4 linked regions of the Homo sapiens genome follow. The protein of the gene in region 2 interacts with the protein of the main gene of each other region in a biochemical or structural test. Each region holds a gene or a part of one and is shown on either strand. Other genes may lie near its edges.

Region 1 (7,109 bases), on a different chromosome or scaffold from region 2:
GGGAAATCTTACCCTTTCCTTTTTGTTTTTGGAGGTTGTGTATAGAATTGACTGTTTCAGCCATAAGGGAGACATGCTGAGGATGGCAAGGGGCTGAGGCTGTGAGGACATAATTGAGCTGCTGAGACATCTCTGGAACTGTTTACACCTGGACTAGTTTGCCATATTCGATAATAAATATCTTTTTTTTTTTTGAGACAGAGTCTTGCTCTGTTGCCCCAGGCTAGAGTGCAGTGACATGATCTTGGCTCACTGCAACCTCTACCTCCTGGGTTCAAGCGAGTCTCCTGCCTCAGCCTCCTGAGTAGCTGGGCTTACAAGTGTGTGCCACCATGCCCGGCTAATTTTTGTATTTTTATTAGAGATGGAGTTTCATCACGTTGGCCAGGCTGGTCTCGAACTCCTGACCTCATGATCAGCCTGCCTCTGCCTCCCAAAGTGCTGGGATTACAGGTGTAAGCCACTGAGCTGGTCGATAATAAATATCCTTACTGAACGAGGCACTTTTAGTTGAATTTCTGATTCCTGCCATCAAAAGTAAGTCTTGCAGGAATTTTTAGATAATATTAAGGATTTGGAATTTAATCCTAAGGATTAGGAGAGCTATTAAAGGATTTTGTGCATGGGGTGACACAAGATGTTTGCTTTTCAAAAGATCACTTTAGTTGCCATGTGGATAATAAACTGGAGAGAGGCAATGATGGATGCGGGTAGAGCAGTTAGGAACTACTGCCATTAAGTCACACAAGAGAATGCAGTGATTTAAAATAAGCGGTGGCTATGGAAATAGAAGAAAATGAGCATGGTGGCTCACGCCTGTAATCCCAGCACTTTGGGAGGCCAAGGCAGGCGGATCATGAGGTCAGGAGTTCACGACTAGCCTGGCCAACATGGTGAAACTCCGTCTCTACCAAAAATATAATAAAATTAGCCGGGTGTGGTGGCATGCGCCTGCAATCCCAGCTACTCAGGAGGCTGAGGCAGGAGAATCACTTGAACCCAGGAGGCAGAGGTTGCAGTGAGCTGAGATTGCGCCACTGCACACTTCCAGCCTGGGCGACAGAGAGAGACTTCATCTCAGAAAAAAAAGAACTACTGAGATACATATTGGAGGCAGGATTGTGATTATGCTTGATTCAATGTGAATGAGGAAGAGGAAGAAATCAAGGATGACTTCCAGGTGTCTAGACTGAGCTATAAAGTGGATCATAGTGCCATTTGCTAAAAGAGAGATCAACCACTGGAGGAGGCTGCTACTATAATGAGTTCATTATTGGAGACATTGGGCTGAGGGTGTTTATGTCAAATGGTCAGTCATGTAAGCTATTAGGCTATTGGACATTTGAATGGCCTGGGGTAGAGATAAAGATGTGAAAGTTTTTGGAACCGAAATAGTGACAGAACCTGTGTGATTTTTGAGAGAAAGAGAAAGAGAGAAAGAGAGAGAGAGGAGAAGGGAAAAGGTCCTAAGACAGAATCCTAGGATCTCCAGCCCAGAGCCAGTGGAGAAGGAGACTCTGGCAAGGGAGAAGAAACAATAGCCAGAAAGAAAGAGGGAAAGTCAGAGTGTTTCCAGAAGGAGGGGATGGTCAGCACTAACAAACATAGTTGAGGGGTCAAGCAAAAAAAATAGCTGAAAAGAATCTATTGGAATTAGTTACATGAACGTCACCAGTGACACTGATAATAAAGCAGTTTTTGGACAGATGGAGGTGGAGAGGTTGGTTCAGAACCCAGACTGGACTGAATAAGAAGTGAATAATTAAGAAATGATGACAAAATGTAGAGGATCAGATCAAGAGATTTGGCCTTGAAGCGGATATGGGGCAGGAGTTGAGGCATAAGTGGGATGAAAGGGAGGTTTTTGTTTTCCTTTTGAAGATGGGAATAACTACCTTTTCATCTTATTTCCCCCCCCCCACCGCCTGCCCCCCACCACCCATGCTCCAGCTCCATAGGTCTTTCCTTTCTTTGGTTCTGCCTCATTCACTGTTCCCAGTCCACGCTTTTTCCTAAATCTTTGAATGGCTCACTTCTTTTCATTATTCATGGCTCTGCTCAAATGTCACTTCATCCAAAAATTCTTCTCTGAGCTTATTCTTCTCCTCATTGCCATTTACTGTTTTATCTTCTTCATGGCTCTGATTATCTGAAATGATTTTGTTCATTTGTTTATGGATTGATTACATGTATCTTCCTTTTGTTTGTTGTTTGTTTTTGAGACAGAGTCTCGCTCTGTTACCCACGATGGAGTGTAGTGGCATGGTCTCGGCTCACTGCAACCTCCACCTCTTGGGTGCAAGTGGTTCTCCTGCCTCAGCCTCCCAAGTAGCTGGGACTACACGCATGTGCCACCACACCTGGCTAATTTTTGTATTTTTAGTACAAAAATTTTTACTAAAGAAATGTATTTCTAGTAGAGACGGGGTTTCACTATGTTGGCCAGGCTGGTCTTGAACTCCTGACCTTGTGATCCACCTGCCTCGGCCTCCCAAATTGCTGGGATTTCAGGCGTGAGCCACTGCACCCAGCCTGTTTTGGTTTTTTGAGACAGGGTCTCCCTCTGTTGCCCAGGCTGGAGTGCAGTGGCATGATCTCGGCTCACTGCAGCCTCCACCTTTCCGGTTCAAGCGATTCTTGTGCCTCAGCCTCCCAAGTAGCTCACACCCAGCTAAGTTTTGTATTTTTAGTAGAGACAGGGTTTCACCATGTTGGCCAGGCTGGTCTCAAACTCCTGACCTCAGGTGATCTGTCCTTCTTGCCTCCCAAAGTGCTGGGATTACAGGCGTGAGCCACTGCCCCGGCTTGGTTTGTTTTTTGAGACATGGTCTCACTCTGTCGCACAGGACGGAGTGCAGTAGTGTGATCTTGGCTCCCGTGCTCAAGTGATCCTCCCACCTCAGCCTCCCAAAGTGCTGAAATTACAGGCGTGAGCCACGGTACCCGGCCTATATCTCCTAATTAAAAGTAAAGCCTGGGTGAAGTTTATGGCCTGCTAAATACGTACATGTATTATATGCGTTATTATATCCCATGTGTTATATTATATATTATTGTATATGTGTATTATATACTATGTACTATTCTTACAACTGTATGTGAATCTATAATTATCTCAAAGTTTTGTTTTTGTTTTTTAAAGTAAGTTCTGTGAGAACTGGGATTTTGTTTGCTTGTTGACGATTGTGTCTTCATCACTAGAACCGAGTCTGGCGTGCAGTGGGCACTAAATAAGTCTTCGTAAAAAGTGTAAATTAACGCCCGGCTAATTTTTGTATTATTAGCAGCGACGGGGTTTCACCATGTTGGCCAGGCTGGTCTCGAACTCCTGCCCTCAAGCAGGAGTTTCAAGCCCGCCTCGGCCTCCCAAAGTGTTGGAATTACAGGCGTGGGCCACCGCGCCTGGCTGATCATGTTTAAAGGGCGGGGTGGGGAGCGTACAAACAACAGAGGAAATCCTGAGCCGCAGAGGAAACTGGAGATGGCAGGGTTTAGCACTAGAATCTCTGTAGGAGAGGTAAGATTGGAATCCTAATCTCCAGGACTCTTTCCACTACCCAGGCTATCTCTCCATTAATGGACTATTGATTGGATGACAGAGTAGCGATAGCACCGTCTTAGGAGACGCCCAATCATAGGTCATAGGTCATTTTTGCAGCTTATTGTGATGACAACAGTGGAGGATGGTCTTCCACTTCACCTTAAAAGCGGCTGTTCTCTGATTATCATTAAGCATGGCCACGCCCGCACTTAACTTCTGACAGTGGGGAAAGCAGCTGTGTGTGATAGCTTGGAAGGTTTACTGCTGCCTCAAGTCCTCTTCTCTGCAGTTGAGGTTTCAGGTTTCAATCCTCCCAATACCACAAGACAGAGCACGGGGCGGCTGCCGCCTCCGCCTCCGCGCCTTAACCTAGGCGGCTTGCCGAAGATCTCAGCCCCGCGGCCGCGCGCTCGCCCTGCCCTAGACCAGGGTTGGGCGCAGCGGCGGAGGTGGCTTCTGGGCTGCGCGAGCTGGGAGAGCTGGGAGGCGGCGATCGCAGCTGGGCCGGGACTTCCTTCCTCCACCGCACGGCAACAAAACAACCCTGCGGCAGGCACTGAGTGCTTCGCAGCTGTCTGGGCGAGAGGCACAGCGATGGGCTCCGTGCTGAGCACCGACAGCGGCAAATCGGCGCCCGCCTCTGCCACCGCGCGGGCCCTGGAGCGCAGGAGGGACCCGGAGTTGCCCGTCACGTCCTTCGACTGCGCCGTGTGCCTTGAGGTGTTACACCAGCCTGTCCGGACCCGCTGTGGCCACGTGTAAGTTCCAGGGGAGCTCGGTTTGCGCCCACCCCTAAGGAGGGCGATGTGGGGAAGCTGAGGGCATGGTGTGGGGAAGGAGGGGGACGGAAGACAGCCTCTTAGGAAATTGCTGCAGGGAGAAACCTGGACCCGTCGGATGCAGGACCACGGGGAAAACGCGGGTCGGAAGGTGACACAGGATTTCGGGAGGAGAAAAAATAAACAAGCGGGTCCTGTAGCCCCCTTGCGCTTTCAGCTCCCGAAGCCCAGGTGCGGAACTCCAGAGAAGGGGATCCAGGCACGGGTCCCGCCCAGAGCCAGGGCTCGCCAACTGGGGAGGGTGCTCTTGGCTGGAGAACCAGCGCTCGCCCAGGCACGGAAAGGAAACGAGCTCCAGCTACAAGGCAGGGGCTCCCGCAAAGCGCAGTTACCCCGCTGAACACGGTAGAACGGGCTGCGCTTCCCTCTGCCCCAGAAACCCGGGTCCGTTTTGTTTTGCTGGAGCTGTGCACGTGTTCCCAGAATGCCCACAGAGGCTCGTCTTAAGCAAACAAGGATCTGTGCAAAGTGTCTTTCCACCCCCACCCCTGCTACCCTTTCCCAACACAGACACCCAGCCCCTCAAAGGGCAAGTCAAACTGGAGCTTCCGAGTGACTTTCCACAGTTGTTAGAGTTTAACAACCTGCTAGGGTGGGGCTTGGACGTTAGCCGCCAAGCCCCTGAATGTACTCCTTCAAAACCCAGCCACAACGTAACAGGAGGTGGCAGGCTACCTGCTTTACGCACGGTCTCTCCAAACCGGCGGAAATTACAGAGTAAAATAACTTTCTCAAAACCGCATAGTACTTAGCTAAAACTCACAGTTGGTGCAAAGCCGTGGTCGTTTCTAAGAAGAATTTAAAAACAAAGTCCCTATATAAAATTGGCACATCCTTAATGTGTGTTTGAATAACTGGTGGAGTTGGAGCTGTGAATTTGTGCTCTCTGTTTACTGTGTGTGTGTGTGTGTGTGTGTGTGTGTGTTTGAGAGAGAGAGAGAGAGACGTAGTCTGGCTCTGTCGCCCAGGCTGGAGTGCGGTGGTGCTATCTCGGCTCACTGCAACCTCCGCCCACTGCAACCTCCGCCTCCCAGGCTCAAGTGAGTCTCCTGCCTCAGCCTCCCGAGTTGCTGGGATTACAGGCGCCCACCCCCACACCCGGCTAGTTTTTGAATTTTGAGTAGAGATGGGGTTTCACCATGTTGGCCAGGCTGGTCTTGAACTCCTGACCTCAATTGATCCACCCACCTCGGCCTCCCAAAGTGCTGGGATTAAAGGTGTGAGCCACTGCACCCAGCCTTCTCTCTTTGCTTTGATTTTTTTTCGTGGATACGTGTGTGTGTGTTGTGTCTGCACAGATCAGGAGCGGAAGCCTACTTAATGTCCTTTGAAGGGTGACTATAGTATGATGAAGCCATGTGTGATACCACAGTGGCTTGTACCAGCATTTGGCTTAGCAGGAAGAAAGAAATACCGTTATTATGAATGCAAGTGCACAACATGTTTTTGAGGACCACTTTTGAAAGGATTTAGGTAGTCCTTAAAAACATGTTGTGCACTTGCAGTCAAAAGTTTTGACGCCCGGCGTGGTGGCTCACACCTGTAATCCTAGCACTTTGGGAAGCCGAGGTGGATGGATCACCTGAGGTCAGGAGTTCGAGACCAGCCTGGCCGACATGGTGAAACCTCGTCTCTACTAAAAATACAAAAATTAGCCAGGTGTGGTGACCCGTGCCTGTAATCCCAGCTACCTGGGAGGCTGAGGCAGGAGAACTGCTTGAACCTGGGAGGCAGAGGTTGCAGTGAGCTGAGATGGCATCATTGCACTCTAGCCCGGGCAACAGAGCAAAACTCAGTCTCAAAAAAAAGAAAGAAAAAAAAGAAAGTTTTGAAAGGACTTAGGTAATCCTTAATACCTATAGCCTTGTATCTGAAAAGCAGTTTTCACTACTGCCCGTCTGTGAGCCAGGGACAAAAGTGTGCAGCCTGCACAATGTATAAATAAAGAGTGCTTTGGGCATTATTTCGTAGCTGTGTTTTCTTTTCTTTTGAGATGGAGTCTTGCTGTGTTGCCCAGGCTGGAGTGCAGTGGCACGATCTTGGCTCACTGCAAGCTCCGCCTCCCGGGTTCACGCCATTCTCCTGCCTCAGCCTCCCGAGTAGCTGGGACTACAGGTGCCGCCACCACGCCCGGCTAATTTTTTTGTATATTTAGTAGAGACGGGGTTTCACCGTGTTAGCCAGGATGGTCTTGATCTCCTGACCTCGTGATCTGCCCGCCTCGGCCTCCCAAAGTGCTGGGATTACAGGCGTGAGCCATGGAGCCCGGCCGTAGCTGTATTTTCAAGGCCTGTTGTTTCAGCTTTGTTCTTAAAACTCGAGGCTTAAATTTACCCTCCTTTCTATTACTGATGTTGTTGCTCAGCTGTCCAGATGTAGCTTATTAACATAATATCCACAGGCCAGTCTGGAAGCCAAGATGGGCTGTGTGAGTCATAAAATATATTGATTATTTTAGGGCAATAACAGCCTAAAGATATCTCCATTTAAATTGAGTCATTATTAGCATTAAAACTTTAAAGTTGTGCAAAACATAAACAGTGGGCGTTTTGAAGATTCTTTTTGGAACAGACCGCTTTGCTATTCAATGATCTGACTGGAGATTGTTTTCTCGGTTTGGACTTTGAATATTATAATTTACCATTTACAATATTTTTCCTTCTACTAAAGGATAATATAAATTTGCAAAATGTTAAATTTTTTGTTTAATCTTTTTCTTTGTTAAAGTG
Region 2 (7,027 bases):
ACACCTCATTTCCATGTATTCTTATTTCTGTTCTGCTTCTTAAATCCCTGACTAATTTGTTAGTTTGCAAATTCCCTACAGAAATGGAATCATTGGGTTTGAGACTGAATTTCTTGATTTAACATTTTCCAATCTTAATTATACATGACAGTAGTAAAAGAAGAGTTAGTTGTTGGGTTTTTTTGTTAGTTAGCAGTTAAACCTCACAATCATGGTGGAAGGCAAGGAGGAGCAAGTCACTGATGTCTTACGTGGATGGCATCAGGCAAAGAGAGCTTGTGCAGAGGAACTCCTCTTTTTAAAACCATCAGATCTCGTGAGACTTACTATCAGAGAACAGCAGGGGAAAGACTTGTCCCCATGCTTCAATTAACTCCCACCAGGTGCCTCCCACAACATGTGGAAATTCAAGTCGAGATTTGGGTGGGGACACAGCCAAACCATATCAGAAGGGAGGAGTAACTTGCCCCAAGTTACAGAACTGCCAAACATGGGCCTGTCTGAGCCTAGTTGTTGGACTTTAACCAATGTTCTGAATTATCATTCAGGTTCTTTGTACTGCCTGTGTCCTTAATCTAGTTGACTCGAATGTACCTGCAGGTTTCAGAGCAGCGATGGAGAAATTAAATACTTGCAATTAGCAGAGGAACTGATTCGTCCTGAGAGAAACACATTGGTTGTGAGTTTTGTGGACCTGGAACAATTTAACCAGCAACTTTCCACCACCATTCAAGAGGAGTTCTATAGGTATGGGCATATTAATCTTCTTTACTTTGAATAGGGGTTGAAATCCGGGAAGCCAGCTCTTCTTGGACTGTAAGTGTTCACTTGTGTAGCAGAAGGTCAGCTTTCACAGTTATTTCCCACTGAGAAGAGGCGCTTTGATACTGCCAGTGGTCGTTTTAGTACTGCTCTGAACTTCATGTAGGCCTTTGTAGAGCCGAACGTTTTTTTGTTGTTGTGTTTTGTTTGTTTGTTTGTTTGTTTGTTTTTTGAGACGGAGTCTTGCTCTGTCACACCTAGGCCGAAATGCAGTGGCGCGATCTTGGCTCACTGCAACCTCTGCCTCCCGGGTTCAAGCGATTCTTCTGCGTCAGCCTCCCGAATAGCTGGGATTACAGGCGCCCACCATCACGCCCGGCTAATTATTTACATTTTTTAATAGAGACGGGGTGTCACCATGTTGGTCAGGCTGGTCTCGAACTCCTGATCTCAGGTGATCCGCCCGCCTCGGCCTCCCAAAATGCTGGGATTACAGGCGTGAGCCACCGTGCCCGGCCAGAGCTGAACTTTTTTTTTCAAATACAAATGTTGAAAATCTTTGCTTTCTATATAGTTTTCCCAAGAGGAAAACTGTACTTACTTACTTTTGTGTCATTCCATTGATCCTTTTTCCCCACAGGAATAGGTGTTTGTGTGGGTCCTTTTCTTGTACTGGGGATATCTTTACAGCATTGACGTTGTTGTACTTCTTGTTCCCTTAAAGTTTAATTTTGTTTTCGCTTATAAAAGTAATAGGTATATATTGTAGAAAATGGAGAAGAGTAAGGAGAATTAAATTGCTTATACACTTGTAATCCACCACCGTCATTAGCAGATCTGCTACAACAGAGTTCCAGGAGCCTTCCAAGTCTGCAAGTGCAGAGTTTTGTAAGGATCTTCTGTCACATTTTGATGTCTTTGTGTGTATGCTGTGTATGAAATTACTCAAATTCATATAAAATTTCTTAAACTCATACTAATAGCTCCAATTGTGGTTTTTTGGTAGAAATACTATGGTTAGACATTATATTTAATAGAAGGCTTTTATTTTGTTTTGACTTGTTATATATAGCAAGAAACATCTTTGCACACAAGACTTTGTATTAGGATTAAATAAATGTGACAGTCTATAGAAATAGAATCAGGTTAAAATAAATTGTGGACAGTTGTGAAAGATAAATGAAAACCCAGGGATAAGGAGGCACAGTCTCGTTCATTTCTTAGTAGATTAGGAGATGGAGGATTTGTCTGTGTTTCTGGTCATAGCTGATGATCAAGAATAATTGGAGGGGGTAAGTAAGCAACAGGATTTATTGTGAAAGCATGCAGCAGTAGAAGTTATAGCACTGACAAATAAGGGAGAGGTAGACAATCAAGCCTGGTGGTAGAAGCAGCTGTGCCATGCCTCATGCACAAGCCAGGCAGCAGTTCTCTTTCCTGAGAGTAGCGCCTTTTTTAGAGGGTTTCAGACCCCACTTCTTAAACAAACTAAGCTGGAGTAGGTATTAGAAACATATCAAAAGGACATGCATACTTCACTCTCACCAGTCAAATGGAGCATTTTTGCCAATTTGTTCTCACATTAGTGCACAAATACTTCTCCTGTCCTCATCCATTTCTTATCAAACCAGCCAGATGTGGTGGCTCACACCTGTAATCCTAACACTTTGGGAGGCTGAGGTGGATAGATCACTTGAGCCCAGGAGTTTGAGACCAGCCTGGACAACATGGTGAAATCCCATTTCTACAAAAAAAACCCCACAAAAATTAGCTGGGCATGGTGGTGCATGCCTGTAGTGCCAGCTACTCAGCAAGCTGAGATGGGAGGATCACCTGAGCCTAGGTAGATTGAGGCTGCAGTGAGCTGTGATCGTGCCACTGCACTCCAGTCTGGGTGACAGAGTGAGACCTTGTCTCAGAATGAAACCAAAGAAATTGACTGACTTGACACATGACTTACTAAGTCATAAACAGCCCACAGAAAATTCACAGTATTGAGCATAATATTGACAAGATGATTGTTCAGCTAGTCATCTTGGACAGAGGAATGGCCAACAGTGTGGGTGCTGTATGATTATTTATGTGCTATATGATAATCAGGTATGGTATGACATTTTATATTTAGTGTTCCGGTGGGATAGGAGAGAACTGAAAGAGGGTCCTAAACCTAGAGTAGATAATAGAAGTGTCCTACACAGTTAAGTTCTAAGGTTTAGTTGTAACCAGATGAAATTCCTTAATCTCGGCTGTTGGTAGGTATGTAAAGGGAAGGAGGCCTTGGTAAACCTCTAAGGTATCAGCTGACTTTTTTGTTTTTCAGAGTTTACCCTTACCTGTGTCGGGCCTTGAAAACATTCGTCAAAGACCGTAAAGAGATCCCTCTTGCCAAGGATTTTTATGTTGCATTCCAAGACCTGCCTACCAGACACAAGTAAGAAACCCTTCTCTGGAAAAAAAGGAATTCACCAAATGGTATAAGTACCACTTAGCTGACAGTCAGAAAACTTGAGAGGTTGCCTTGATCTGCTATTAGCTGGCTATTTAACATTATACAAATCACTTTTACCTCCCTGAGCCTCAGTTTCCTTGTCTGTGAAGTCTTTTGGCTTAGGTTTTCTACCTAAATCATGCAAAAAATAGGTTTGTTGCTGTAAAATTACTTTTTCATAATTGATAATCACAATAATTATAAAACAAGTACTTATAAAATTGATGCTGTAAAATACCAGGAGGAAAAAATAGTGGTTTGCATTCAGATTTTGTAGAAGGTTGACTTTTGTAGGAGTTATACCCACTTATCCAGAAAGTTTAGTGTTGGAGAAATGTATTTTCCTATGGAGATGGGATTAGATGTAAAGGGAGTGAAGCAAATTTTTAGGATTATCACATTTTAGGGCGCCTTTTAGGGAAATTTGGGAGAAAATTGATCAAGGGAGAAAATATGAAATTCTAGAAATTCCTGAATCTCTGGAAATTTTTGTTGGTTTAAATGCATAATTTTCAAACACCCCTTTGGCAGTTATTTTAAGAATAAATTTACTGGATAAAATTGAAGTGATATTTTGAAAAGTTAAACTACTGAAATTATAAAATTACCAAATTACTTCACATAAAATGGGTTTGTAAAGGAAGTGTTTCTGAACTTTGAGTACAAAATTTTTTCTCATGATAGGATTATTATGTAACACATGCTTTTTTTTTTAGAAATTGCGGGTAAGCAAAAAAGTATTTGCATATAAAACAAAAACAGGATCATTCTGTTTTTGTTTTTTTTTTTTTCTGAGACAGAGTCTTGCTCTGTCACCCAGGCCAGAGTGCAGTGGCACGATCTTGGCTCACTGCACCCTCCACCTCCCGGGTTCAAACAATTCTCCTGCCTCGGCTCCCCGAGTAGCTGGGATTACAGGCGCCCGCCACCACGACTGGCTAGTTTTTGTATTTTTAGTAGAGGTGGGGTTTCGCCATGTTGGCCAGGATGGTCTTGATCTCTTGACCTCATGATCCGCCCACCTTGGTCTCCCAAAGTGCTGGGATTACAGGTGTGAGTCACTGCGCCCAGCCCGTTCTGTTTTATAATTTTAATTTTCATTTTTTTGGCATCCTTTAGTTCATTTATATATTTTGTTCTGGATACATATACGTCATATAATTTAGGATTGGGCACGTTGACTAAATTATTCTTATAGGAGAGTCCAAAGAATACCTTGTCTCTTGAATTTTTTTTTTAAACATAAATTATCTTTGAATACCCTCTCACTAAAATGGAAAGATTCTTAGTTAAGAGATGAATGTTTACTAATGGGACATTTGTCTTTAAACAGGATTCGAGAGCTCACCTCATCCAGAATTGGTTTGCTCACTCGCATCAGTGGGCAGGTGGTGCGGACTCACCCAGTTCACCCAGAGCTTGTGAGCGGAACTTTTCTGTGCTTGGACTGTCAGACAGTGATCAGGGATGTAGAACAGCAGTTCAAATACACACAGCCAAACATCTGCCGAAATCCAGTTTGTGCCAACAGGAGGAGATTCTTACTGGATACAAATAAATCAAGATTTGTTGATTTTCAAAAGGTATTTATTTAACATCTGTTTAGATCAGAGTCCATCTATGATAATAATTCACTTCTAGGCCCTTGCAATAGCTTATTTAGATAATGTTCAACTCAATTTTTATGTAAGTTAAGCATCATCAAAATGACTACAAAGTTAAGCCCAAAACTGTTCATGTAAATTATAATTGTTAGTATATACATTTGTTTTAACTTTCAGTAACTTGGAAGTTCCTTAAGACTGACAAGATGTATTTGTCAAAGAATAAATGGTAACTAGGTGGTGGTGGTTGTCATTATGAACTGGAGTTAAGAAAACTTAAAGAAATAGCAACTTGTTAGTGTAAGATTTCCATTTGCTGCATAGAAAGGAAAGCATGAATAGGACAGGCTAGCTTGGAAGCAATGAGGATTATCATGATTGAAGTAAAGGAGCCAAATTGGAGATCATCTGAGAGATGATTTGATGTGAGACCTGGAGGTACTTGGATCCCTAAATCTTAGGCTGAGGAGTTTGAGCCTATCTTAATAAGCAGTGGGAATATAGTGGGAAGGTAGTTTGTGTGTGTGGGTGTGTGTTTGTTTTGTTTTGTTTTTTGTTTTTTTTTGAGACAGTCTCTCTCTGTCACCCAGGCTGGAGTGCAGTGGCGCGATCTCGGCTCACTGCAAGCTCCGCCTCCTGGGTTCACGCCATTCTCCTGCCTCAGCCTCCCGAGTAGCTGGGACTACAGGTGCCCACCACCACACCCGGCTAATTTTTTGTATTTTTAGTAGAGACAGGGTTTCATCGTGTTAAACCAGGATGGTCTCGATCTCCTGACTTCGTGATCCGCCTGCCTCTGCCTCCCAAAGTGCTGGGATACAGGCGTGAGCCACTGCACCCAGCCTGTGTGTTTTTTTTTAAAAGCAAACTGAATAAGTCCGTGATGGGTTTAACAGAGGGTAATAGGCAATTTCAGTTACCTGGGCAAGAGGTGATGGATGGCAGTAGTAAGAATGAAGGGGACCCTCAGATTTCAGCAGGACTTAATTTTATGGGACATACAAAATGGAAAGAAAAGCTGAAGCAGCTCAAGTATGGAATAATTATTATCAGATGAATTTAATATTATTTATATTGCTCTGATAATCATTCTCCTTATTTGGCTTTCTTACATTAACCTGGTAGCTTATAAGATGCACATATTTTACCAACAGCTTTGGGTAGGAGATGTCTTATCTTATAAAGTATGAATCTAGATTGGGTCTTAGTTTGGGGGGGGGAACACAACTGTATAAAGGACACTCTTGACAAGACATTTGAAGATGGACTAGATAATAGAAGATATGTAATTTTATGAAATTAAATATTGTTTAATTATCTTGGTTGTGATAATGATATTGTAACAGGATTGTCTTTATTCTTAGAGATGAATGCTAAAATATTTAGGTATGAAGTTTCTTGATGTTCACAACTGTGTTCAAATACATAGTAAAAAAACATGTATCTGTAAATAATGTTAGCAGTTGTGTTGAAGTGGAGGGTATAAAAGGTGTATTTGAAATTTTCTGTAAAATTATCTTAAAGCTTAGGAGAAGATGGAGCATGGAACAGATATTTGGAGTCATTTTGAACAAAGAAAAAAATTATTTTTTAATGAGTAAAAGTGAAGTTTTTTTTTTCTCTGCTGCTTGAATCATCATGGAGTTTTTAAATAGATGTAATCTCTTGCCAAATTGAACTATTTGACTAAAAGGAGTTTTAGAGTAGATAATTTTTAGGATAAATGTTGGTACATGTGAAAAGTCTGCTAATGGGTCAGATAGTTTAGAATACGTCCGTATTTGTGGTATTTAATTTAGATTATATGGCATCTGAAAGGTATTGCTTCTCATTCTTGGTTGGTTGTTTGTCTGTATTACAGGTTCGTATTCAAGAGACCCAAGCTGAGCTTCCTCGAGGGAGTATCCCCCGCAGTTTAGAAGTAATTTTAAGGGCTGAAGCTGTGGAATCAGCTCAAGCTGGTGACAAGTGTGACTTTACAGGGACACTGATTGTTGTGCCTGACGTCTCCAAGCTTAGCACACCAGGTCAGTAATCTGTGGCTCAAATTTAACAAATTCTCAGTTACCTAAACTGCACAGTATCTAGCTTCCCACATCTTCATTGTCTTCTTTTTGGCTACCAATCAGAAGCTGAGGAACGAAGTGTGATGAGAATAAAAACAAATTGGTTT
Region 3 (7,169 bases), on a different chromosome or scaffold from region 2:
AGAGTGCAGTGGTGCCATCACAGCTCACTGCAGACTAAACCCCCAAGGCTCAAGCAATCCTCCCACCTCAGCCTCCCAATTAGCTGGGACTACAGGTATGTGCCACCATGCTGAGCTAATCCTTTTTACTTTTATTTTTATTTTTTGGTATTTTTTTGTAGAGACAGTATTTCACCATGTTGCCCAAGCTGGTCTCAAACTCCTGGACTTAAGCTATCTGCCCGCCTCAACCTCCCAAAGTGCTGGGATTACAGGCATGAGCCACCACACCCGGTCTGCTTTATTTCTATCCTAGGTTAATAAATTCCTTAAAGATAGGAGGTTCTAAGACAGTGTGTCAGCTATTTATATATATAATAGTGGAAAGGGGGATAAGACTTCCACTAACTTTTCCTTTGTCATTTCTTTCTTTCCTAGTCATTTTTTTTTTTTTTTTTTTTTTTTTGGTGTGTGTGTGGGGGGGCGGGGTGTGTCCTTTAGTAGGGACATTCATGGAGAGAGAGATGAGCAAAATTATTTGAAAGTTGTTCTGGGAACCTATTCTGAGTTCACCGTACAACTGACCAGAGACTCCCCATTTCTCCCAGAGTGAGAAGTTGCACCCAACTCAAATTTCCACAGGCCTCAAGGTCTCCAGTAGCTGGGCATCTGGTTTTCCCAGACAACTCTTAGAATCACTTGGCTTCTAAATGCAGATTACCTGGTGCCTAAGTAGTTTGAAGTCTACTAATAAGATTGTTCTCATGTGCTCCCTCTAAGACAAGAGGACACTTAGGAGGGCAGGATCCCTTTGCAATAGCACAGATCCACAATCTCACTGGCACAAACAGGTCCATGGCTTTTCTTGCTAACTCTGAGTTAGTAACTTCTTCCAGCCCATAATGGGTCAGCCGTGAGTTAGGGAAGGGACAGATCCTGGGCTAGGCTATCTAAAGAAAACTTCACTGACTTTGGAGGATGCAGAGATAGAAACAAAAGACAAAAAGACACACACACACACACACACACACACACACACACACACACACATGCACATGCAGCACAAACAGACCTGGAGGCAGAATAAACATGTTATGAAGGAAAAATGGTAAAGGCACTGGTCTGACCCTAAAGAAAACTGTGTGTATGTAGTTATCAACATCTCTAAATAATAATTTTTATTAAACAATCTATCTCCACCTCCAATCTGCTTACAGGAGACATAAGTGCAACCAACCATTTGAAACCTAATGTCTAGCTGAGCATGGTGACATACAGCTGTAATCCTTGCTACTTGGGACGCTGTGGCAGGAGAATTGCTTGAGCCTCGGAGCTATAGTGATTCATGATCATGCCACTGCATTTTAGCCTGGGCAACAGAGCGAGACTCTGTCTCTACTAAGTAAATACATAAATGAATGAATAATAAAAATAAATAAATAAAACCTAACTTCTCATTGTACATTAATTCCATAGCCATTTATTAAATCCATACTATGTGAACAGCCATGTGCTAGGTATTAGGGATGGGATCATTGACAAAGGGGGAAAAAGTACCCATTATAAATTAACTAATACAAGCTAACAATGTCCAGGCCTATGGGACCAAGCACTTTACATGTATTATGTCACTTTATCTAATTTAATCCCTATAGCAAAACCAAGCAAGTATTTTATCCATGTTACATTTTTGAAATAGGAGTGTCACAGATATTGAATAACTTGCCCAAGTTACACGGCTAGTATAAAGTTTATAAACAATTTGACACTGTAGCCACTATTCTATTTGTGCGCCCTACCCCCCAATAAAGACAAGAAACCAAACTAAGAAACAAACCAAACCTCAAGAGTTGTCTCCATTTGTAGATCTTTTGTTCGTCAATAAATTCAATATAGTCTTTCTGTCTCACTCCAAAGCTGCTCTTTCTGAAGGCTCTAATGACTATCTCTGATCAATTCTGTATCCTCACTACTTCTGTGAAGCATTTGCTATAGCTGACCACTTTCTTCTAATTGTAAAACTTTCTGCTCTTGACTTCTATGACATCACCTTCTTACCTCACAGACTACTACTTCTCAGTCTCTTGCTGGTTCTTCCTCCTCCTCTGCTCAACTATGAAATGTTGGAAGTTATCATAGCCCAACTCTCCATCTACAATCTTTGCTTAGATAATATCGTATAGTCCAAGACTAGGTTTCATCTATAAATTCATAACTGCCAAGTTTATTTCTTCACCCTGAACTATACCCCAGACCAATATATTCATCTGTTTCTTTGACATCATCACTTGCATATCTTGGACTTGATTATTGTTAACGACCTCCCGATAATGACCACCAGGAACACAACTATAGCTGAGCAACTTGGATGTATTGCTTGTTTCAGTACGTGAGAATGCACACCATGGGGAACCATGGGATGTCTTAGGAAGAGGGTGTTAAAAAGGACTTGTTATAGAATTTGAGTTTGTGTTAGGAGATTTACGGAAGGGTGCAAGAAAGAGGGACTTTGGCCTGGATTGGAAGCTGTAAGGAAGCAAGGATAATTCTATAATTGGGTATTTTAATAAGTATTATGTAGAAGGAAGGAAGACTAGACTGAGGTTAAAACTATAATTGGTAAAGAAGCAGCAGGCACTCATATTAGCTAGGATAAGGAGATATTTGATCATTTTTATGGCTTGGGCAATGTTGATGTTGTGTCTGTGTTCACATATGATTATAGAGTGATCTTACTTTTGTCTTGATCTATCACGGTCACAACTCTGTCTTGTCTGATGTTCTGTGAAATTGTTTATGTTCAACAGAAGAATACCAATGCTTGGCTGTGATTGCCAGGCCAGCTCAAAGCAACAGCAAACCAAGCTGGTAGTACCAGGCCATCTCCTGGATGTCAAGGTCTGCTTTTCTCTTTCTCGGTATCCACACTAGAATCCTTGATTTACTCTCTTCCACCTCACTCAATCAAAAACCATTACCTCACAGACTTCCCTTCTATGTGGCACTACCACCCACACATATGCTAGCCCAAAACCTAAGATTCACTGTTGATGATGCCCTTTTCTTCATTTTCCATAGCCAATCACCAAATCCCATTGTCTTCTTTCTTTTATTTCTTCCGCCATTGTTCTGGTCCAAACTACCATTATGTTTCTCCTAAACATAAAGTGCATCCTATTTCCTCTGCTTCCACACTTGCCCCTCTACAATCCATTCTCTTCATAACAGATAGATCATATTACTCCCTTGCTTTAAAACTTTCAAATAGCTTCCAATTGTACTCAGAACAAACACTAAACTTCTTACCCTGGCTTTCAAGGACCCTGGTCTGGCTTCTGCCTAACTCTCCACCTTCATCTATCTGGGACTATCTTGCGGCTCACTCACTATGCTTCCCCCACACTGGCCTTTCCTGCCCTGCCCCTGCAACATACCAAGTTCCTCTTTCTCTCTGCATTTGCCCTATCCTTTCTTTGCCAGGACAACAGTCTCCCTACCAGCTCTTTCTCATCCAGGTCTCTTTGAGAGGGCTTCCCTGACCATCTAGATGCCACCTTCCTGGTCAGTATTTCCCTCAAGTAGTAATCAATGCCGGAAAGAATACTGTTCATTTATTCATCCGTTATTGTCATCGCTTCATTGGAATTTAGCTTCCTACAGGGATGGTGTTTATCTTGCTCACTATGATTCCAGCCCCTAGAAAAACCCACCTACCTCATAGCCAAGGGCTCAGTAAATAGTATACACTGCCTTCCTGCCACTGTGCTAATTTCTACTAACACAGCCACAAACAATCAGCAATTACATTTTCTGCTTGTTTTTAACGGGGAAGTAGGGCACTCAACGAAAAGGAAATAAAAGCAGAGTCAAGAAAGTGCCTTTTATCCATGGAGTGCCCAATGTGTTGTGCGGCCGGCCACGTATATAGGGATGTGTCAGCACCTGAGATTTTTCCTTCTCTGAGCTAGCTTCTTTCCTGGAAATCATGCTGGGCCCTTAGCCTTATGGTTCACCCTGTTTTTTAAGATCATCCACGGGCTTCATTCCCGTAACCGCTCTTCTAGCTGGCCAAGGCGGCGGGAAGAAACCCCACCCTCTTGCGCAAACGCCCAGTAGCGGAATCCGCGGGGTCGAGGGCTTTAGTGTGCGCATGTGCAACCAGAGCGGCGGCGGGAAGTGTTGCGCAGGCGCATCCGATCGACTCGGTAGGTGGGGATCTCTTGGAGACGGCGACCCAGGCATCTGGGGAGCCACAGAAGTCGTACTCCCTTAAACCGTGAGTTTCCGACGGTTTGTTCCATGGCGCGGGATTGTGAGGGATTAGGAACGAATTCTGGATCGTGACTTCGGTTTTCTCGCCGTGCAGTTCCTTTTCCCGCCCCCCTTCGGATCCCTCCGACCTGCGGCGGGAAAGTCGCGCGCCTGCGCACTAAGCATCTGGTTCGGTCTCTGGCCCGAGGGAAGCCGGTCCTTCCCGGCTGAGCTCGCGGCCAGCGCTGGCCGGCGGATTCCCATTCATTCACCCTTCTCCTCCTCCGCCCAGTACTCGTGGCCAGGGTCGTATCAGTTCTCCGTCAACTTGCTTGGGGCCTTGGACGAGCCTCCTGGCGCTTCCTGTCAGTGGCGAAAAGGTTTTCTCCCTCAGTTCTTTTCCTGACTTCAAACCGCCCCCGGCGCTCGGCCCCTCCCCCACGCGGTCCCGCTGGCTGTGCCGGACTGGCAGCCTCGCCGTTTCCCACTGCGCCTGCTGCTGCGCGGGTGCCCAAGCCGGGAAATTCTCCCTGCAGCCCCCTGCCGGTGTTTCTGATAGGTGAAAATAAAGCACATGGAATTCCTTAGACAAGGCCACAGTATGCCCTACTGTGGAGGTTTGGACACATCGTGCGTTTGAAAATGTTTGCCCCTTTGGGGGGCAGTAGCATGTTTTTAGTGCGTGGTTTAGCGAGTGATCTAAATTTCTCTAGTGTTCTAATTTTCACAGCTGCTTTGCTCCCCCTGTGGATGTAACCCCTTAGCTGGCATTTTGCATCTCAATTGGCTTGTGATGGAGGCGTCTTTGGGGATTCAGATGGATGAGCCAATGGCTTTTTCTCCCCAGCGTGACCGGTTTCAGGCTGAAGGCTCTTTAAAAAAAAACGAGCAGAATTTTAAACTTGCAGGTACGTGTTTAAATCCAAAGATGTACAGTTATAAAGATTTTTCAGGCAACAATTCTGTGTTTTCAATTCCTCTCAAAAAATAAGATTGAATCTTATAAAGTGAATTGTATGTTTCTATAGGACAGTGTTAAAACAGAGCTTCGTATGATCTAAATGTAGGACTGAATTGCGATTTGGAAGACTGTAATACAACCTGTTTTACGGTTGAAGTTGCTATGGTCTCAGTATTGGTAATTAAGAATGCAGAAATTTGATGATGCCCAAATTAAATTTCTCTTTTGTATCTGTGTTCTTATCTCTACTCACCACATTGCCTTAAGCTTAAATGTAGAAATTGACACTGGAGATCATCACTTAAGTATTCAAAAGCAGAACTCACAGACAAAAAAATATGAAATGTTTGTAGCAATAATAAAGCACCATATCTCAGTGTACAGCATGAAATGTTCTTTGACCGTAAACCAGACCTTAGGGTGAATAAGACAGGGTCAAGCAGTGCCTGCTCTTGTACACTCGCATGTGTACCTTCATTTCTGCTCTGGCACAGGACCTGGGACATAGTAGGTATTTGTTAATAATAAATATTTGTTAAATAGAGGAATTCTAGTTGACTGTATTTTTTTTTTTCTGAAAGGGTAGCCAGATCATCTTTCCCATCTTTGTCTTAAGTGAATTCTGTGCTTGTCTAAAAGATACTTATTTTGACCTTTTGTCCATATATTCTTTATAACCCCACCCTAGAAAAATATGACATCACATACTTTCTGCTTTGATGGAAGTCAGTTATCCCACTTACCTAAACTTGAAACTTTAATCTTCAGCTGATGCTTTTTATTTGTTCCCCATATCGTCACCTAGCTTTATTTCTTTTTAGTAAGTATGGCATTGTGTCTTCTTTCCATTCCCATTTCCACCACATTAATTAATTTCCTTACACTTTGTTCCTGATTTACAACAGTTTCTCACCTATGCTGCCTGCTTGCACTTTTCCATTCTTCAGTTCATCTTGTATGTTGGTGCTAGAATAATCTTAAAATGCCACTTTCATCCAGTTTCATGGATACTGTTCCTCTTCCTTTCCATTTTTCCAGCAGTTAGCTGTTTTTTTAGTTCATCTTTCCCTTACTAGTCACTGGACACATAACACAGTAACACAGTCATTGTAGTATTCTTTTTCTATTGCTTAGGACTCTGCATTTTGTCTCCACTGTAAACCCCTTGGCGGCAGTATCTCCTCTGGTTTCTAAAGTATGTTGTGACTTCAGCAGAGTATCTGAATGGATGACTCTGAATTGGTTCTAGCATCATGTTTAGGAGAATGCCACTATTCTAATATTCTGAAAATCTGCTGGGAAGTAATGAATGGGGTGAATTTTATTACGGATTTCAAAAGTTTTGTAGCGTTTATGTAACAGAACATTGGACATTATAATATGATAAATTATAAAACGTGCTAAAACTTTACTCTTATGGTTCTTTTTTAAATATGATCTTAATAACAGCTAAAGTTATATAAACATAACTTCAATAGGGAGCAAAGCTGATGAGGTCCAGGCACATAACAGTCTAGTAATCTAATTGGGAAAGTAAATCAAATTAGATCATGAGACAGGTATATGCCTGCACCTCATCAACTTTACTCCTTATTGAAGTTATATTTTTGATTGGATGTTTTATATATCTTAGCATTCCCAGAGCTTAACAGTGTCCAGCACATAGTAGGTGCTTGAAAATATTTGAATGAATGATTTAATGTAAGGATATAAAGTAAAATACTTAGTGTAATGGATGAATAGCATGTCTCTTTATTTTGAGATATTTGTCAGATTTTTATAACATTTTTCTGATAAACATGATTATTGAAATTTTTGAAGTAAAGAAAGCCAAAATAAAGTCTTTTCCCATTATTGAAATATTGCCACTGTTGACATTTTGTTATATTCCTTTAGCCTTTCTAGGCATACATAGGTACATTTTTTAGAAACTAAATTGGGATCTTGTTTTGTTTTTGTTTTTGAAAAGAGAACCAGA
Region 4 (7,027 bases), on a different chromosome or scaffold from region 2:
TGATCCACCCGCCTCGGCCTCCCAAAGTGCTGGGATTACAGGCGTGAGCCACCGCGCCCGGCCTTCTTATGTCTTCCTGGTGAATTGACCCTTCTAGCCTCTGTAATGCTCTCTCTTCTGTCCCTGTTAATTCTTATTCTGAAGTCTGCTCTCTGATGTAGACCATTCTGGCTTTATTTTTATTAGTATTTACATAGTACTTTTTGCAGTCTTTTGCATTTAACATATCTATATATTTAAAATGGACTTCTTGCAGATATTGTCTTTTTCATCAAATTTGGCAATCTGTCTTTTAATTGGTAGTTTAAGTGATTTATACTTAATGTAACTATTGATCTTGTATTTAGGTCTACCATCTTACTGTTAGTTTTCTGCTGATGCCCTCTGTATTTTATTTCTGTTTCCCCCTTTCCTGCCTTCTTTCAGATTGATCTGCCAGCTTTTTAACTCTCTTCATTTTTGTTGTTTTATTTTAGTGGTTGCTATAGGATTTACGATATACATGTGTGACCTTTCGCAATCTATCTTGAATTAATATTTACCTTCTTCAAATAAAATGTAGAAGCCTTAAAATATTCAAGCCCTTTTACCTTCCCCACCAACCTTTATGCCATAATGTTTAGTACATCTTCTTATAATGAAAATGTCACCAGACAATGTTAAACTTTTTGCTTGAAAAAGTCATATTTTAGGGCTGGGCCTGGTGGCTCACACCTGTCATCCCAGCACTTTGGGAGGCCAAGGTGGGTGGATCACTTTAGCTCAGAAGTTCGAGACCAGCCTGGGCAACATGGTGAAACCCCATCTCTACAAAAAATATATATATAAATTAGCCAGGCCTGGTGGCATGCGCCTGTAGTCCCACCTGCTTAGGAGGCTGAGGTGGCATGATGGCCTTAGCCCAAGAGGCGGAGGTTGCAGAGAGGCAAGATCATGCCACTGCTTGCGACAGGGCAAGACCCTGTCTCGGGGAAAAAAAAGAAAAAAAAAGTTGGGTTTTAAAGAAAGCGACAGGAGGAAAATAGTCCTATTAACCCAGATGTTAACCTTTCCATTACTCTTCCTTCCTGAAATTACAGGTTTTCTTCGGATATATCCCTTTAGCCTGAAGGACTTACTTTAGCATGTTTTAGAGCAAATCTGGTGGCACAAGGAATTCTCTGAGATATCCTTCATGTGATCATATCTTTACTGGAAAAAGAATCATGAATTGAGAGTTCTTTGTCTCAGCACCTTACTCTTGTCCTAAAACTGTCTTCTGGTCTCCATGGATTCTGACGAGAAATCTGCAGTTACTCAAATTGGTATTCATTTATATCTACTGTATCATTTTTCTCTGGCTGCTTTTAAGATTTTTTTCTTTATCTTTGGTTTCAGAAGTTCGATTGTGCCTACACTTGGTTCACTGAGCTTATTGATTTGTGTAAATTTATGTTTGGAAAGTTTTCAGCTATTATTTTGTTAATTTTTTTTCTTCACTAGTCTCTCCCCTCTTTTTCCACCATTCCAGTTGACAATAAAGTTAGACATCTTGATGTTATTCCACAGATCCCTGTGGCTCTTTTCCTTTTTTCCTTAGTCTTTTTTGTTTCCTCTTTTCTTCCAATTGGAGATTTCTATTCATTTGTCTTGAAGTTCACTAATACTTAATTGTGTCATACATGTTCTGCTATTGAGCTTATCCAGTGAATTTTGTTATCTCACTCAGATAGTATATTTTTCAGTCCTATTATTTTTGTTTGGTTCTTATTTGTAGTTTTTCTGCTGAGAATTTGTCTCTTTCCATTCATCTTAAGTGTGTTTACCTTTACTTTTAAAGTCTTTTTCTAATAATTACAATATCAGGAACATGTTGGGGTTGGCATCTGATTGTCCTTTTCTCTCAAAAATTGATAATGTTTTTCTGGTTGTTTACATGTGAAATTTAAGTTTTGACTGTATACTGGACATTCTAAATGTTGTGTAGGCCCTATATCCTGATAGTCTGTAGGATGCTGATTTTGTTTCTGCCATTGTTTTAGCGGACAGTCATCCCAGTTTTGTTCAGACTGTTCTGTCTTGGTGGTTGTGGGTGGGGTGGATCTAATCTCAGTTTCAATTTTCAAAGCCCTTGCTATGCTGCGTTGGGTCTATCCTTAGCATGTGCAACTTGGAGGTAAGCCCTGCACTTGCATGGATTTATATAGGGAATTAGGGATCCCTTTCTCTAACTTGCTCTTTTCATGGATCAATCTCCAGCTTGCAGTGGCCTCTTTCCCAGGTCTTCTAGTCAGAAAGTGAGGGTTTCTCAATGTTAGCTTAAGCTTGTACTACCTTTACAATCTCAGCCTCCTAATTGGGACCCACCCTCAGGGCAGAACTGTGGGAGAAAAGAAAATAATACAGGGATTCTCTTGGTATTTTTGGCCACTTGAACCTCATTCCTGGTTCTTCCTGCCAGAAAGATAGGAGTTTTAGCTGCTGGCTCTGCCACTGCTGCTAACTCCATGACTGAAGGTTCCAGTTTTGACTTCCTTCCACAATCTGCCTGCTTATTTTACTTTTCATTCTTCAGGTAGTTGCTTATTCAGTGTTGTCCAGAGTTTCTAGTTGTAATCAGTGGAGTTGATTATCCATCTTTAACATATTGAATCTTTGCCTAAATTGACTGACTAATAAATGTTGACTAATTTCTTTATTCAATTTAATACAAAGATTTTGCTGAATAAGGGCATAAAAATAATATGACTTTTAAAAAAACATTTCATTAACTACCTTTTCATTATTGGTTTTCTTTTTATGAAGTCAAAATCAATTATAGCTAGAATGCAAGGTACTTGCTGAGTGTATTGTAAAACATTTAAAAACAATAGTTTTTTTTAACAAAGAATAATCCTTCTTTGATATAGCACTTTTCTGCATGATTTTTTTATCTTGAAGATACTGAGCAATTGCAGTTGCTGTTTTAACTGTACTTTCAAAGCCAATCTTTTCACTATATATTTTTTTTTAGGGCAAAAGAGTTGGTAGTGGTGCACAAAAAACAAGAAGTAAGTATTTTGTGATCTTTAAGTGTATTTGGTTTGCATTTGAAAAATCATAAAAGATCTTCTAAAATCATATAAACCACCCTCTAAATGATTTATTCAAGGCTTTCTTCGTCTTTATAGAACATAGATCCTTGGTGAAGTTTGGTGAAGCCTGTGGACCGCATTTTCAGAATGATGTTTTTTTTAAAACGTTTCCTTTAAAAATCATTAGTCTACCAAGAAAATGAATTATATTAAAATGTAGTTACCAAAATAGTTTTTAATTGTGAAATAGTGATAACTTGCTTTTTATTACACAGAACAGATTCTAGCAGTGAATCTAATTGCCACTTCATTTTGAATTGATAAGCGTAAACAATGCTTTGAGATATCTGCTCAAGCAGTTCATAACTGATGAAAATATGTGCAGTTTCTATTAGCATCAAAGTCGCAGGTACTGCGAATAGTGTGATTTGTTACATTTATAATTGAAGGAAATGCTAAATTTCAGTTTGAGGTTAGTGAAGACAATAGTGTAGTTTTTCTCCTGTTCTAATTTATGACCTTCCTGAATCCTGTTAATTTGAGGGTTCCATTTAGTTTAAGAATCTCAGAATATAGGAGAGAGCTTCTGTTATTTTTGGAAATGAGGTGATAATGGAAGTACCTCATCTGAGGCTTAAAACTTTAAAGTGGATACATAGTTTTTTGTTTGGAGGGTTTTGTTTTGCCACAGTAGTTTTATTAAAAAAAAAAAAGAATCCTGAATTTGCAAGTATCTAATATGTTTTCTATGTTCTCAAGCAGGAAGACTCAAAAAGCCTTTTGTAAAGGTGGAAGATATGAGCCAGTAAGTATTTAAGTCCAATCTGTATGATTTAAGTGCAATACTAAAGAGGAAAATCACCTAACTAATTAGGCTAGCTCGATTAGTACTGTTAGGTTCCTTTGTGTTTGATTTATATTATACTAATGTGCATGCGGCACAAGTTAACGAAAGTAGCATTAATTCATTTGTGCTCAAGGACTGAATTTAGTTTCAGTATGTTGTAGATATTCCTGAAATAGCTGGTTTAGAAAAATCATGACACCGTTTTTTTAGTATTTAAATTATTCTCTGGCTAAATGCAGTACCAAATGATTTAGAACTACTGAAAGATTACGCCTTCATTTGCGAAAAAGAAATTATTAGATGCTATTTAGAAACAGAAAATCTAAGTATAACATCTAACATGGTTGATTTCCAAAATTCTGAAGTATTGTAGGATAGTCTTGTTGTTGTTGTTGTTTGTTTTGATTTTTTGAGATGGAGTCTTGCTCTGTCACCCAGGCTAGAGTGCAGTGGCACGATCTCGGCTCACTGCAACGTCCACCCCACCCCCGGTTCAAGCAATTCTCCTGCCTCAGCCTCCCAAGTAGCTGGGATTATGGGTCTACGCCACCATGCCCAGCTGATGTTTGTATTTTTAGTAGAGATGGGGTTTCACCATGTTGGCCAGGCTAGTCTCTAACTCTTGACCTCAAGTGATCCGCCTGCCTCAGCCTCCCAAAGTGCGGGGATTACAGGCGTGAGCCACTGTGCCCAGCCATGTGGGATAATCTTAATGAAGACCACAGATATAAATAGGCCTGCCATGAGAGAATTAGATTACTTTCTTTTTTCTTTCCACTTATTCATTTAGACATCTGTGGTTAATTCTCTTGGGTACTCACACTGAGGCGACAAAAGTGTATTGAAAACTGCTTTTTATGAAATGTGTTGCTGTGAAGAAAAAAGTGCAATTCAAAAGGAGGCCTAGAAAAGACACTAGTATACGAAAGGACATCCCATGTTCATGAATTGGAAGATATAATATTGTTAAGATGTTAATACCACCCAAAGTGATCTACAGATTCACTGCAATCCCTATCAAAATCCCAATGATGTTTTTTGCAGAAATAGTAAAAACGTATCCTAGAATTCATACGGAATTGTAACAGATGCAGGAAACCCAAGACAATCATTAAAAATAACAACAAAGGCCAGGCGCGGTGGCTCACTCCTGTAATCCTAGCACTTTGGGAGGCCGAGGCAGGCAGATCACGAGTTCAGGAGATGGAGACCATCCTGGCTAATACGGTGAAACCCTGTCTCTACTAAAAATATAAAAAATTAGCCGGGCCTGGTGGCGGGCACCTGTAGTCCCAGCTACTCAGGAGGCTGAGGCAGGAGAATGGCGTGAACCCGGGAGGCAGAGCTTGCAGTGAGCCGAGATCACGCCACTACACTTCAGCCTGGGGGACAGAGCAAGACTCCGTCTCAAAAAAAAAAAAAAAAAAGAACAACAAAGTAAGAGGTCTCACACTTTCTGGTTTTAAAACTTACTGTAATGCTACAGAAATCAGAACAATTTGGCATTGGAATAAAGACATATAAACGAATGGAATAGAATAGAGAGCCTAGAAATAAACCATCACACATATGGCCAAATGATTTTCAACAAGGGTATGAAGATAATTTAATGGAGAAAGGACAGTCTTTTTTAACAGTGTTGAGAAAACTAGATATACACATGCAAAAGAATGGCATTAGACTCCTACCTCACATCATGTTCAAAAATTAACTCAAAATGGACCAAAGACCTAAAATGGTAAAACTCTTGGAGAGAACACAGGGGAAAAGCTTCATGACATTGGATTTGCAGTGCTTTCCTGGACGTGACACCAAAAACACAGATTACAAAAGATAAAATAATTAAATTGGACCATATCAAAAATATAAATTTCTGTGCCTAAAGGGATATAACAGTAAAAAGGCAACCGAAAGGATGGAAGAAGATACTGCAAGTCATGTATCTATTTCTTTTTTTCAGCTTTCTCAGGTTGAACAAGTCATATATCTAATAAATGTTAATATCCAGAATATATTAAGAATTACAAGTCAACAACAAAACAACCCAATTTTAAAAAGGGGCAAAGCGCTGAATAGACATTTTTCCAGAGGTGATACACAAATAGCCAATAAGCATATGAAAAGATGCTCAACATTACTAATCATGAGGGAATTGCAAATCTAAACCACAGTGAGATACCACTTTACATTATTTAGGATGGCTACTATTAAGCAGCCAAAAAGTGAAAGTAATCCAAGTCCATCAGCAAATTAATGGATAAACAGTATGCAGGATGTGTGTGTACACACACTCAATGGAATATTACTCAGCCTTTAAAAGGAATGAAATTCTGACACGTGCAACATGGATAAACCTTTAAGACGTTATGCTAAGTGAAATAAGACAAAAAATACTGCATGATTCCACTCCTGAAGCATCTACGTTAGTCAAACTGATAACAAGAAGTAGAATGGTGGTTGTCAGGGGATATGGAGAAAGGATATTTGGGAAGTTACTGTTTGATGGGTATAGAGTTTCAGTTTTTGCAAGATGAAAATACGTCATCTTACAAAAGATGGACGGTAGCAGTGATGGTACCACAGCATTGTGAATACTTAATGCAACTGAATTGTACACTTAAAATGGTTAAGGTAATAAATTTTATGTGTATTTTACCACAATTTAAAAAATGTTTAAATGTTAAAAATTGTTAGGCCTGAAATTGATTTTTTGAAGGAAAGCCTAAATAATTTGTTATTTCAGATTCCAGCTTAATTATATGATTTTGAAATACAAAACTTTAAACCTTTTTTCTTTAATCATAAAGAATCTCATGTATTTGTCTTTTTATTCTTCTAGACTTTATAGGCCATTTTATCTTCAGCTGACCAATATGCCTTTTATAAATTATTCTATTCAGAAGCCCTGCAGTCCATTTGATGTAGACAAGCCATCTAGTATGCAAAAGCAAACTCAGGTTAAACTAAGGTTGGTTTGAATCTTTACTTTTAGAAGGAATATTCAGAATTTCATCTCAATTTTTCTTTGTAAAGATTTGAAATAGTTTCATTTATGCCATAATGGTTATTTGTGTTTGTAATTACTATTCTGATTACTTTTATAAGTCTGAATCTGTTTAGATGGAGG

What was found.
Region 1: the proteins of MCM6 (region 2) and RNF125 form a complex in vitro, tested with the Homo sapiens proteins (one study listed by BioGRID).
Region 3: of the proteins of MCM6 (region 2) and CDC7, one has a biochemical effect on the other in vitro, tested with the Homo sapiens proteins (2 studies listed by BioGRID).
Region 4: of the proteins of MCM6 (region 2) and DBF4, one has a biochemical effect on the other in vitro, tested with the Homo sapiens proteins (2 studies listed by BioGRID).

What each region holds. Positions count from the first base shown.
Region 1 is NC_000018.10:32,014,729-32,021,837, forward strand, and holds the start of RNF125 (E3 ubiquitin-protein ligase RNF125), read left to right. Parts: upstream 1-4,096; 5' UTR 4,097-4,135; coding exon 4,136-4,299; intron 4,300-7,109. UniProt on the Homo sapiens protein: E3 ubiquitin-protein ligase that mediates ubiquitination and subsequent proteasomal degradation of target proteins, such as RIGI, MAVS/IPS1, IFIH1/MDA5, JAK1 and p53/TP53.
Region 2 is NC_000002.12:135,866,417-135,873,443, reverse strand, and holds part of MCM6 (DNA replication licensing factor MCM6), read left to right. Parts: intron 1-600; coding exon 601-747; intron 748-3,082; coding exon 3,083-3,193; intron 3,194-4,583; coding exon 4,584-4,833; intron 4,834-6,715; coding exon 6,716-6,881; intron 6,882-7,027. UniProt on the Homo sapiens protein: Acts as a component of the MCM2-7 complex (MCM complex) which is the replicative helicase essential for 'once per cell cycle' DNA replication initiation and elongation in eukaryotic cells.
Region 3 is NC_000001.11:91,496,694-91,503,862, forward strand, and holds the start of CDC7 (cell division cycle 7-related protein kinase), read left to right. Parts: upstream 1-4,157; 5' UTR 4,158-4,255; exon of another isoform or gene 4,256-4,960; 5' UTR 4,961-5,023; coding exon 5,024-5,138; intron 5,139-7,169. UniProt on the Homo sapiens protein: Kinase involved in initiation of DNA replication. Phosphorylates critical substrates that regulate the G1/S phase transition and initiation of DNA replication, such as MCM proteins and CLASPIN.
Region 4 is NC_000007.14:87,893,482-87,900,508, forward strand, and holds part of DBF4 (protein DBF4 homolog A), read left to right. Parts: intron 1-2,992; coding exon 2,993-3,029; intron 3,030-3,812; coding exon 3,813-3,858; intron 3,859-6,739; coding exon 6,740-6,868; intron 6,869-7,027. UniProt on the Homo sapiens protein: Regulatory subunit for CDC7 which activates its kinase activity thereby playing a central role in DNA replication and cell proliferation. Required for progression of S phase.